Regions from separate parts of the Homo sapiens genome. Here region 1 is linked to region 2. Evidence: fine-mapped expression QTL. Tissue or cell type: whole blood. Region 2 holds a variant in brackets; the other region holds the start of a gene. All regions are shown on one strand. Distances are from middle to middle. Region 1 holds the start of GRAMD2B (GRAM domain containing 2B). Region 2 overlaps GRAMD2B (GRAM domain containing 2B).

Region 1 (5,379 bases), 40 kb after region 2:
CTTCCCCAGCTCACCAACAGATGGTACTTGAAAGTGACTGTTGGTTGGGTCCTCTGAGAAATTCAATAAGGAAAAATGTAATCTGAGTCTGCAACCTATTTAGAGGAAAGATAACTAATACAACTGGATTAGTGGGTGAATTAATATATGTTAACAACTTGAAACAGTACTTTGTACAAACTAAACTGTCAATAAACATTAATTGTTAATTAATCGTCATAATAACAGCAGATAAATTCTATGAGGCGGAAGCCACATATGTACAAGGTGAGCACTGGTAAAGAAGAGATGAGTATGGCCAGTAATGAAGGAAGGCTTCACATGAAGGAAAACTTGAGTTGATTTCTAGAAGTAGATGAAGAGAGAGGAGAGAGGGGAAAGGAATAGCAGTAAGGAAAAGTGAAGACAGAAGGGGATTCATTTGCTCCTATGTTTGGCATACCAGTTCCTTATTCCTTCTGCATATCACTTCTTTTTTTGAATTTTATAAGAAATATATTTTTAAATTATTTTAAAATTAATATTATTTTTAATTGACAAATCATAATTGTTTACATTTATGGGGTACAGGGTAATGTTTTGGTATATGTATACAATGTGGCATGATTAAATCAAGCAACATACCTATGGTCTTGCTTACCTATCATTTTTTATGGTGAGACATTTGAAATTTACTCTTAGTTATATTGAAATATACAACATATTATTATTCACTAATCTCCTTGCTGTGCAATAGAACTCAAAACTTATTCCTCCTAACTGAAACTTCGTACCCTCTGATCAACTCCCTATTCCCTCCTTCCCCACCCTTTCTACCTTCCAGCGCCTGGAAACCACCATTCTACTCTCTATTTCTATGAATCCAACTTCTAAATTTATTTTTAAATTAAATTAAATTTTAGTTTTGAGACAGGGTCTCACTCTGTGTCCAGGCTGGAATGTAGTGGCATGAACATGGCTCACTGTAGCCTCAACTGCCTGGGCTCAAGAGATTCTCCCACCTCAGCCTCCCGAGCAGCTGGGACCACAGGTGTGCGCCATCATGCTTAACTTATTTTTTTTTGTCTGTAGAGACAGGGTCTCACTTTGTTGCCCAGGCTGGTTTTAAATTCCTGGGCTCAAGTGATCCTCCAGCCTCGGCCTCCCAAAGTGTTGGGATTATGGGCATGAGCCACAGTCCCTGCCTGGCCTGAGTCAACTTTTTCAGATGTCACACTTAAGTGAGAACATGCAGTGTTTGTTTTTCTATTCCTGGCTTATTTTGTCTAACATACGTCCTCTAGGTTCATCCATGTCACAAATGATCTTTCTTTTTAAAGGCTGAATAATATTGTGTATATATACCACATTTTCTTATCCCTTTATCCATTGATAGACACTTAGATTGATTTCGTATCTTGTGTATATAGCACATTTTCTTATCCATTCATCTGTTGATGGACACTTAGGTTGATTTCATATCTTGGCTATTGTGAGTAATGTGCAATGAACATGGGAGTGCTGCATATCACTCCTTTAAGTATAGGGCTGCTAGTATGATTGTTTGGCTATAAAAGATGTGCATGCTGACTAGTATTAGGAAGTGAGGTTGCAATGGTCTGTGTGGGTCCAGATCATGAAGGATCTTAAAATCTTGGCAGAGAAGCCTATTTTTAAGAGTAGGCCATGGAAGGCCATCATAGATTCTGGAACAGAGGAACCAGTGTACAGCATAGTGGTTCTAAGTTCATGCTGTAAAGTTAGGAGACCTGGGCTTGAATCCTGGCTGCTCTTTTATTAACTTTGTGACTCTGCCTAGCTGCTTAGCTTCTCAGAGCTTCAGTGCTTTTATCTGCAACATGGAAATAATAGCACCTGCCTCATTCTTTGTGAGAATGCATTTAAAGTATTGAGCACACTCCCTGTCACATAGTAAGCATTCTCAGTAAGTGCCAGCTACTATTATTTAGGAGGCTAAGGCTCTAGGTGATGAGGTCTACATGGGTGCAGTTACAGACGCAGGGAAATTGTGAGGAGCAAGTCATTCTAATCCTCTTAGAAGAAATGTCCATGGGGACACCCAGACTTCAACAAGACTTTGAGCCTAGTGATAATTAATGTAAGTTATGAAGTTCAAAACAGAAGTTAGACCGGGTTTCTAAGCACAAAAATTTGGCAACTTAAAATGATTTCAAAGTGGAATTATCACATCAGTATAACCTTATGATAATACATATCCCTCCTTCCTAAATTACTCATATCCTGATACCAGAACAAGAGTTTTAGAGCTCAGAAGGGTTAGTGTCTAAAATCATAGACTGAATTAGAAGTGACTTCAGTAGGCTTAGAAAATACCACTTTGTAGGAAAAAAACAACCTCTCCTCCCAAACCAATTTTACCAAAGACTGCAAAATAGATAAATATTTTAAAAGTAGAGAAGACTCAATTATAGGCTAAACTCTTTATCATACCTTGTCTGTGTGTTTAATGTGGCAATGGTCACCAAAGTCCCTTGAAGTACAGTAATATTCATTTGTGCCTCCCCCATCCCCACTCTGCTCTTGAAGTTCCAGAAGGGCAGATCCAAAATAACATTTATCCTTGTATTGCCCATCGTTATTGAACAAGTAGATACTCAATTATTTGCTGAACTAAAATGAATTTGTGAAAATGGTCATTCTAAACGAAGGGCTGTGTTGGGACTTTGAGCTTCAATGTGGTTAGGCTTATTTTCTACAAAATTATTTTCCCAACATCCAGTGAGTTTTGAATTAAGAGAATTTGTTTAAATCCTACAGTAGACTTTTCAATCAATCTAAACCATCTCCTTAACTGAATATCTAGACAGAGAGAGAGAGTGAGAGACAGAGAGAGCGCGCCACAAGATTGTCCATATAGGAGCTCCAGAAATCCGCATCCACCCAAAATGCGTCCCGGGGCAGAGAAGTTTAGGCTGCGCTCCTCCCACCTCCTTGGATGGGTCCCAGCTGAGAATACTCACTGGGCTGAGCCAAGTTTGCTCTCCCTCTTCCCGAGCACTTTCGCAGGCTTTGTGTCTTCCACATCTTGCTGTAGTTCAGTCATCGGGGCCGTGTCTGGAGGGCACCTTCAGACTTCCGCGCGCCTGGCTCTGCCCCGGCTCGTCCCGGCTTCTAGGTCCGGGTGCGCAGGCCAAGCAAGCGGCGCCGTGCCCTCCCCTGCACCCTCCGCCCAGCGCATCCAGGCCGGGCCGCGCCAAGCTCCCGGGGCCGCGGACCTGGACACGTCGGAGCGGGCGCGATTGGTCCGACCCACTGTGGAAAAGCCGAGAGGGAGGGAAGGGGAGGGTCGAAGCGAAGTGACAGCCTCTTTCCCCAACCCAGGAGGCAGAGAAGAGAAAAAGGAAACCTGTTGAACGAGTCTTTCGGGAGAGGAAGCTAATTGGCCAAGCAGGTGGAACATTTGCCTAAGAAGGCACAATCTGTTTAGCCTCCTGGTAAATTAAGCTTTTTGTTTTCTATCCCGACTGTAACAGGGGGATTTTTAGAGGGCAGCCGGCTCTAGATACCGGAAATGGAGACGTCTGAGTGGGACGCCCTGTCACACAAATGCGCTGTGTGGGCTGGCCTATGCCCCATCCTAAATTATTCAAACAGGATATTGCTTCATTGAGGGACTGCCTCTTCTGCTTAAACAATAGGTCTGCTCAATTTTTTATGTGGGAATAACAAAGGTAATAAGTAGTTGCCTTTGGTGGTGTTTTGGTTAACCCTTCATCGTTCTGGGGTGGGGGGGGTGGTTAGAGGGGCAAAGAAGAAGCAACCATCAAAATCTTCAAATATTGGGTTATGACTGTTCTCATCAAAATCAAAATTGGTGTTTGATAATTCCCAAGCCGTCTCTTTGTTGCCCATAGTTGTGCAAGTACCTTATTTACTATGCACTCAACCAGTACCGTGAATGCCTCTTCTTCCCACCTTTTGGTGACATTTTGACTTGCCTGTTCTAAGGTTTTGTATTGGAAGCATTCACTCATTCATTCATTGAACAAACTTTTGAGAGCTACAAAGTTCCAGGCATTGTTCTCAATCAGGGGTGTCCAATCTTTTGGCTTCCCTGGGTCACATTGGAAGAAGACGAACTGTCTTGGGCCACACATAAAATATACTAACACTAAGGATAGATGATGAGCTTTAAAAAAGGTCTGTGCAGGGGCCAGGCACGGTGGCTTACGCCTGTAATCCCAGCAGTTTGGGAGGCCGAGGCGGGTGGATCATTTGAGGTCAGGAGTTCGAGACTAGCATGGCCAACCTAGTGAAACCCCATCTCTACTAAAAATACAAAAATTAGCTGGGTGAGGTGGCGCAGGCGCTTGTAATCCCAGCTATTTGGGAGGCTGAGGCAGGAGAATCACTTGAGCCTGGGAGATGGAGGTTGTGGTGGGCCAAGATGCACCACTGCACTCCAGTCTGGGCAACAGAGTGAGACCCTGTCTCAAAAAAAAAAAAAAAATCCGTGCATAAATGTCACCATGTTATAAGACAGTTTATGAATTTGTATTGGGCTATATTCACAGCTGTTCTGGGCTGCAGGTTGGGCAAGCTTGTATAAACATTGACTTGTTATAGCAAATGACATTTGTATTGGTGGTTTTCTAATTTGCAATGGAGTAGTTGACAATTAGAATAATTAATATAAACGTTATTATTGGAAGCCTGACTTGACTTCAAAACAATTACAAGTGGCAACAGTAGAGCATGACATGCCTGGGAAAAAACGACTAACTATGTTCTGGGGCTGCAAGTCCTTCATTTTTCTCTTAAAATAAAGTTTAGATTTAAGAGTATTACAAAGACTATACAACCATAGTATGTACATGTATGTATGTAGTTTGTAGGGTGTATGTGTGTGTAAAACACCTAACCTTCTAAATAACTTCAAACATTTTGGAGGTGCAAGTTCTTTCCAAAGTTTTCTTATTCCTTCTCTTTTTACATATATATCATTAGGCTGAGAGAACAAAAGCATCTTTTTGTAGCCTGCTTGCTCCAAAATTGATGTTTGTGACATTTGAAAAATAAGTAAAAGAAAAAGCTTACATAAATTCCAGAAGAGTTGGCTTAGTCAGGCCTCTCTCTCTTTTTCTTTCCTGACCACTGACTGCTTTGCTATAGGAGCTGTGCTAGGTGGGATGGGGAAAACTCTGGGTGACCTGAAAGCTTGAAGGCTGTCTCCTTGGTGCCCATAGTTGCCTCTTCCTGGGGACATTCCTGATGCCTTCACCTCTAGATCCCCACCCTCCTCAGAATAGGGATAGGTTTGGAACAGAGATGAGGTTGTCAATTTCCCAAACTCTGGATGAGGACTCTCAGATCTCAGGTGCACTCCAACTTCTCATTACAGAGCTCAGATCAGACTGA
Region 2 (5,379 bases):
ACCTGAGGTCAGGAGTTCAAGACCAACCTGGTCAACATGGTGAAACCCTGTCTCTGCTAAAAGTACAAAAATTAGGTGGGCATGGTGGTGCATGCCTGTAGGCCCAGCTACCAGGGTGGCTGAGGGAGGAGAATCGCTTGAACCTGGGAGGCGGAGGTTGCTGTGAGCTGAGAATGTGCCACTGCACTCCAGCCTGGATGACAGAGCGAGACTCCGACTGGAAAAAAAAAAAAGGTGAGATGCCACAAAACAGCATGCAGGAAAGATGGAGAGATAATTGGGAATTAGAGTCAGAAGAGGAAAATTTCGGGAGGAGTTAAGACTTACTCTTGGTCCTGAATGAAGCATAGATTTGGAGAGAAGATATGGGCTGGGAAGCCAGGAAGGAAGCAAAAAGCGGAGTTAATAATCTTTTAGCAAAGACCAAAAGAAGTAGAAGGTAGCAGTTCTCAAAGTTCTAATAATGGTGAAGGACCACAATGATTTCTGTACTCAGTTTAGATAAACTGCACTCACCCATCACACACTGTTGGTTTAACCGCTATCTTTTAAGTGCCCCAAAGCAACTTTAGTCTCTACCAACTTTAGTCTCTACCAAATGGTAGTTGGTGCCTCTGAGAAAGATGAGGCTACAGCTACACATCTCAAAACCACCTCTCCCCTCCGGCCCCACAACCAAACCAACCCTCCCTCTTAGTCTGTCACAGGAAACTGGTGGCCTGGTGGGTCCCCGGGATGGGGATTCTTTTCCTCGGCTTTTTTTCACGGCCCCTAGGAAAGTGAGACACCAGGTGTGCACACCCAAGGCCGGGCAGACACTCCAACCTGGCCAGCCTTCCCAGCTTTCTAAACATATGCCAGAGAGGGGTCCACCCTGGCCTCATCACTTAGCAAAATCAGCGCTTTCAGAAAGGTGCAGATGCTCTGCTGAAGGCTGGGGCAGGAGGGAGAAAAAGATGCTACCTGGGTATCAGGGAAAAATGCTCATTCTTTCTCAGGAGTATTATTTGTCTATAGTATTAATACATCCTCACTCTTAACAAAAAACCCCTGCTCCTCCTGTAACGCCTTCTCCCCAAAAGACAAAAGAGAACAAAGAGAGTCAACGGAGGACTTACCATAGGCTAATGATTTTCTTCTGGTCTGGGGAGTCCGCCTCCACAGATGGGGTAGGGGATTGGGCTGTTGGCGACCTGCAGGCTTTCTTTTTCTCCTCCACACCATTCTCAGCCTCTGAGCTGAAGAAGAAAGGAAACCGCTTCACTTTAGACATTCAGAGAGAGGTAGCTGGAAGGAAAACGATGAAGTAACATGGTTTTCTAGAGAATGGAATGATTTTCATTCCTCACTGATAGGCTAGTTAACTTTGACAGCGAGGCCCTTTCCCAATCTCCATTCTAACCCCTTGCCTGGTGTCCCAACGGCAGTAGCTGCAGGTCGCACCTGTTTCACTTGTAAATGCCAGACTGTGTGGACTTGCTGGCTCCCAGGTCTGTGCTGCCCAGCTCTGCTCTGCATGGGCTGTGCTGGGGCAGCAGATCACCTGGAGGCTGGGAGCGCCCTGCACAAGCACACACGCACATGTACACACGCTCACGTGTGGCCTCCTGCAGGTGTGAGCCTTCCTGCTGGGAACCCCCACCCCTTTTGTTTGCATTTCTCTTATGTCACTTACATGTTGTTTAACCAAGCAGTTCCCTAAGCAATTTACAGTCTCTAATCTTTACAACCACCCAGACTAGGTAGGAATTACTACCCTCATTTTACAGATGAGGAATCTGAGGCTCTTGCTATCTTGCCTAAGTTCAGAGAGCTAGCATCTATCTTACTTGAGATTCAAACTTAGTATGTCTGTCTGCAAAACCTTTGTGTTCTCTCTCTCCATTCATCCCCCCAACCACCTACTCATCCATTTATCCTCATAATTAACTCTTCAGTGTGAGAGCTCCAGGGCAGAGTGGGAATCTTACTCATCTTTGTCTTAACCACGGGGTCTAGGATAGTGTTGACTTACAGTCATGATCAATAGGCGTTGGAAAAACTAGGTCTGACCTTGGTAAAAGAGAAGGTGGAAGGGAGTAGAGGGGAAGGTGAGTCAAGAAGGTTTGTGCATAGAACCAACAAACAGAGGACAACCAGCTTGGGGGATGCAGAGGTGAGTTCCCTCAGTCGGCCGGTGAAGATCTCTTGGGAAGCAGGGGAAACCACTTCCAATGGGAAAGTGGGAAAGGAAGGGATGTTGAAGGAAGAATACAAAATGTTATTTATGGATCAGAACTTCTTTGGTGTGTCAGCTCAGTAAAACACAAACGATACTTCTGAGGATGTGAGGACTCCATGGAGACTGAGCCTAAAGAAAGACATGTTAAGATGGCATTGCTATGAGAGATTAGCTAATCTTCACTTTCATTTACCACCTATTTGGTAGTCTCACCTGCATATGACTGTGCAGGCAGGAAATGCCACTGGATAGTTTAAGCTGTGTGGTTGCTTTGCTGATCACTTTTCACAGCATATGAAAATTGCAGCCTAGGCGAGGAGTCCTATTGTAGTGTCAGAATCAAGGCCAGTATATCTGACAAGGGTATCTAACTAATAACACCCACAGATGGTTGATGCTCTTTTTTTTTTTTTTGAGATGGAGTTTCACTCTGGTTGCCCAGGCTGGAGTGCAGTGGCACGATCTCGGCTCACTGCAACCACTGCCTCCTAGAGATTCTCCTTCCTCAAGATTCTCCTGCCTCAGCCTCCCAAGTAGCTGGGATTACAGGCGCACGCCACCATGCCTGGCTAATTTTTGTATTTTTAGTAGAGACGGGGTTTTGCCATGTTGGCCAGGCTGGTCTCGAACTCCTGACCTCAGGTGATCTGCCCACCTTGGCCTCCCAAAGTGCTGGGATTACAGGCGTGAGCCACTGCACCCGGCCAAATGGTTGACGCTCTTAATTTTGTGGTAAGCATTTCTCTTTTCCTAGTAGATAC[A/G]TATCTGAGGACAGAGGTCCAACCTTCTATTTCTTCAATTTTTCTCCAAGTACTTAAAACAGTTACATACATTAAAAGGGCTCAGTCCATAACAGAATTGCATTATGTGACAAAGGTACATGGAAGGCTGAGGCATTGAAATATTATTAGGAAAACCCTGTTTTGGTTTAAAATAATAATTGGACTTTATTAAACTTAGCACCAAGTTTAATTTGTGGACTCAAAGAATTTTAGAATAGTTAAGAGGCCTTAAAGCACATCTCTGCCTTTTTTCGCTTCCCCCAAGACACAAACACATTATCTCTTTTCTTCAACAGATTCAGGCAGAAATCTACTTGAGAAGCCCTCTTTAAGTAGAGACTGGGTATAGAACTTCAATAATCCATCTCAACATTTATTCAGATATTTACTGGATTTTATGCAGGATCAGATGAAGACTTAGAGGGAGAGCTGGAGCTGTCCTATACAGCATCTTTGTGTACAGAGAGCCACTCTGCAAAAGGTGCTCCTGGCAGAGATAAGGTGCTTCTTGCTCTTGGCAGAAACAGCCCAGCACCAAGGTCAGAAGGCAGCAAAACTGAGGCTAGATTTCAGCTCCTCTTTGACCCTGACCCATCTTGGTCAGGCATTTGTGTGCAGTGCAGGTGACTTAAGTGCTTAACCACATAAGGTGGTCCTGTTTCGGGACCCCTAGCTTAGCACTGAAAAGATTACAGTGCATGCCTCTATATTGTCCTACTAAAACAATGTCTTTCAAGGATGGAACATACAGTGTACTCAAAGTAGCTTTTTTCTACATACTCTCCACTTCACTTCTCCTTCAACTTGTGTCTTGTCTTCAGCACTGGTTCTCTCCTTGAAGGCCCTAGCCAGGGGACACATCCTCCACACTGCTTAAAAGTCTCTATGCTGCCTGCTGATTTTATAACTCACTAGGCATCTAATTAATTAATACCTTGTACTGGTACCTTTTCTCCCAAAAATCTTAGTTATCCAGCACTAAACCAAGTTCCTTAAAGGCAGGGAATGTCTGGTTTTTTTCCACAGCACTCAGCTCAGCATTTGCTCACAGTGGTCATTTATACGTTCAATGATATGGATTAATTATGTAGTATCTCAAAGAGGAAGTGAAATTCATCTACGAGTCAATTTGATCTTAGGTTTTTGCTTAAAGATGCTACAGGCTCAAGCAAGTTAATTCCTCACACAGGCAAGATTATTCCTGCAAGCGTCCCTTACCTTGGAGGTCTTGTCAGCAGCAGACTGAAACTATGTAGAATTCAAGCAGCAGAGGCTAGCGTGTGTTTGAGTGAGCAGCGTGGGAGGGGAAATGGAATGCTTCCTCAAGGCCTTTTGGAAACTTTTAAGTTACTGTCAATGAAGCTGAACCAGGCCACTTAGTAACTTTAAAGTTACGGTCAACGAAGCTGAACAGGTTTCATTTAAATCATGAAAATAAGGAAATCAGTTTTTATTTATTTTTTAACCAGAAGACAAAGCCCTGTTACGGACTTTGACTAAAAGAGTCAACTGAAAAAACAAACCAAAAAACCAATCCTCCTTTTTCAACAAATATTTACTGGACTTGTCCCTGTTGTCAGGGTGCTCAGAGCTTTGTAGATGAGACAGGTAAGTGAGCTGGCAGGTGTAAGTATCCACAGAAGCAGTAGAAAATGCTGGAGACACAGGACCAACCTTTACTTGGCCTTGGCAGGTTATTTCTCCTCCCATCTCCAACCCACTTTAAGCATCAGTTATGGTCCCTGCCTGAAAGGCTTTTAGTAGAAATTTCAAAGCAGTGAGACAGTCATGCTTATAACAACTAAACCTGACTTCACCTATTAGGGGAGAGCATTTTTATTTTTATTTATTTATTTTTTTGAGATGGAGTTTCACTCTTGTCACCCAGGCTGGAGTGCAATGGCGTGATCTCTGCTCACTACAGCCTCCACCTCCCAGGTTCAAGTGATTCTCCTGCCTCAGCCTCCCGTGTAGCTGGGATTACAGGTGCCTGCCACCATGTCTGGCTAATTTTTGTATTTTTAGTAGAGACGGGGTTTCGCTGTGTTGGCCAGGCTGGTCTCGAACTCCTGGCCTCAAGTGATCCACCTGCTTCGGCCTCCCAAAGTGCTGGGATTACAAAGCATAAACCACCATGCCCAGCCAGGGAACAGCATTTTTATTACTGGCTAGGACAATCTTGTTTCAATAAAACACTGCCACACACTGTTACACAATTTATACATACAAAAACAGGTTGTACAATCCCTATCAGCCATCTAATATTTGTCACTTCCCAGACATCATTAGTTTGATGATGACTTAAATTCTCATTTCACAATTTTTCAGAATTAGAACTCTTATGTGGAGTCAAGTATCATTCCTGCTGGAGATAGT

Evidence for each region. PIP is the estimated chance that this variant, and not a neighbour inherited with it, causes the effect.
Region 1: GRAMD2B starts here. The variant in region 2 is fine-mapped to the expression of GRAMD2B in whole blood (INTERVAL, PIP 0.91).

The regions. Positions count from the first base shown.
Region 1 is chr5:126,421,292-126,426,670 of GRCh38, reverse strand. It overlaps GRAMD2B (GRAM domain containing 2B), which reads right to left and starts at 3,262. Exons shown (of 14, transcript NM_023927.4): 1 at 2,982-3,262. The coding sequence starts at 3,064. RefSeq lists a silencer at 3,158-3,287.
Region 2 is chr5:126,461,285-126,466,663 of GRCh38, reverse strand. It overlaps GRAMD2B (GRAM domain containing 2B), which reads right to left. Exons shown (of 14, transcript NM_023927.4): 2 at 1,119-1,238. Among named protein-coding and RNA genes, the nearest start is that of GRAMD2B, 41 kb to the right of the region's middle. The variant A/G (reference allele first, on the strand shown) is at 2,983.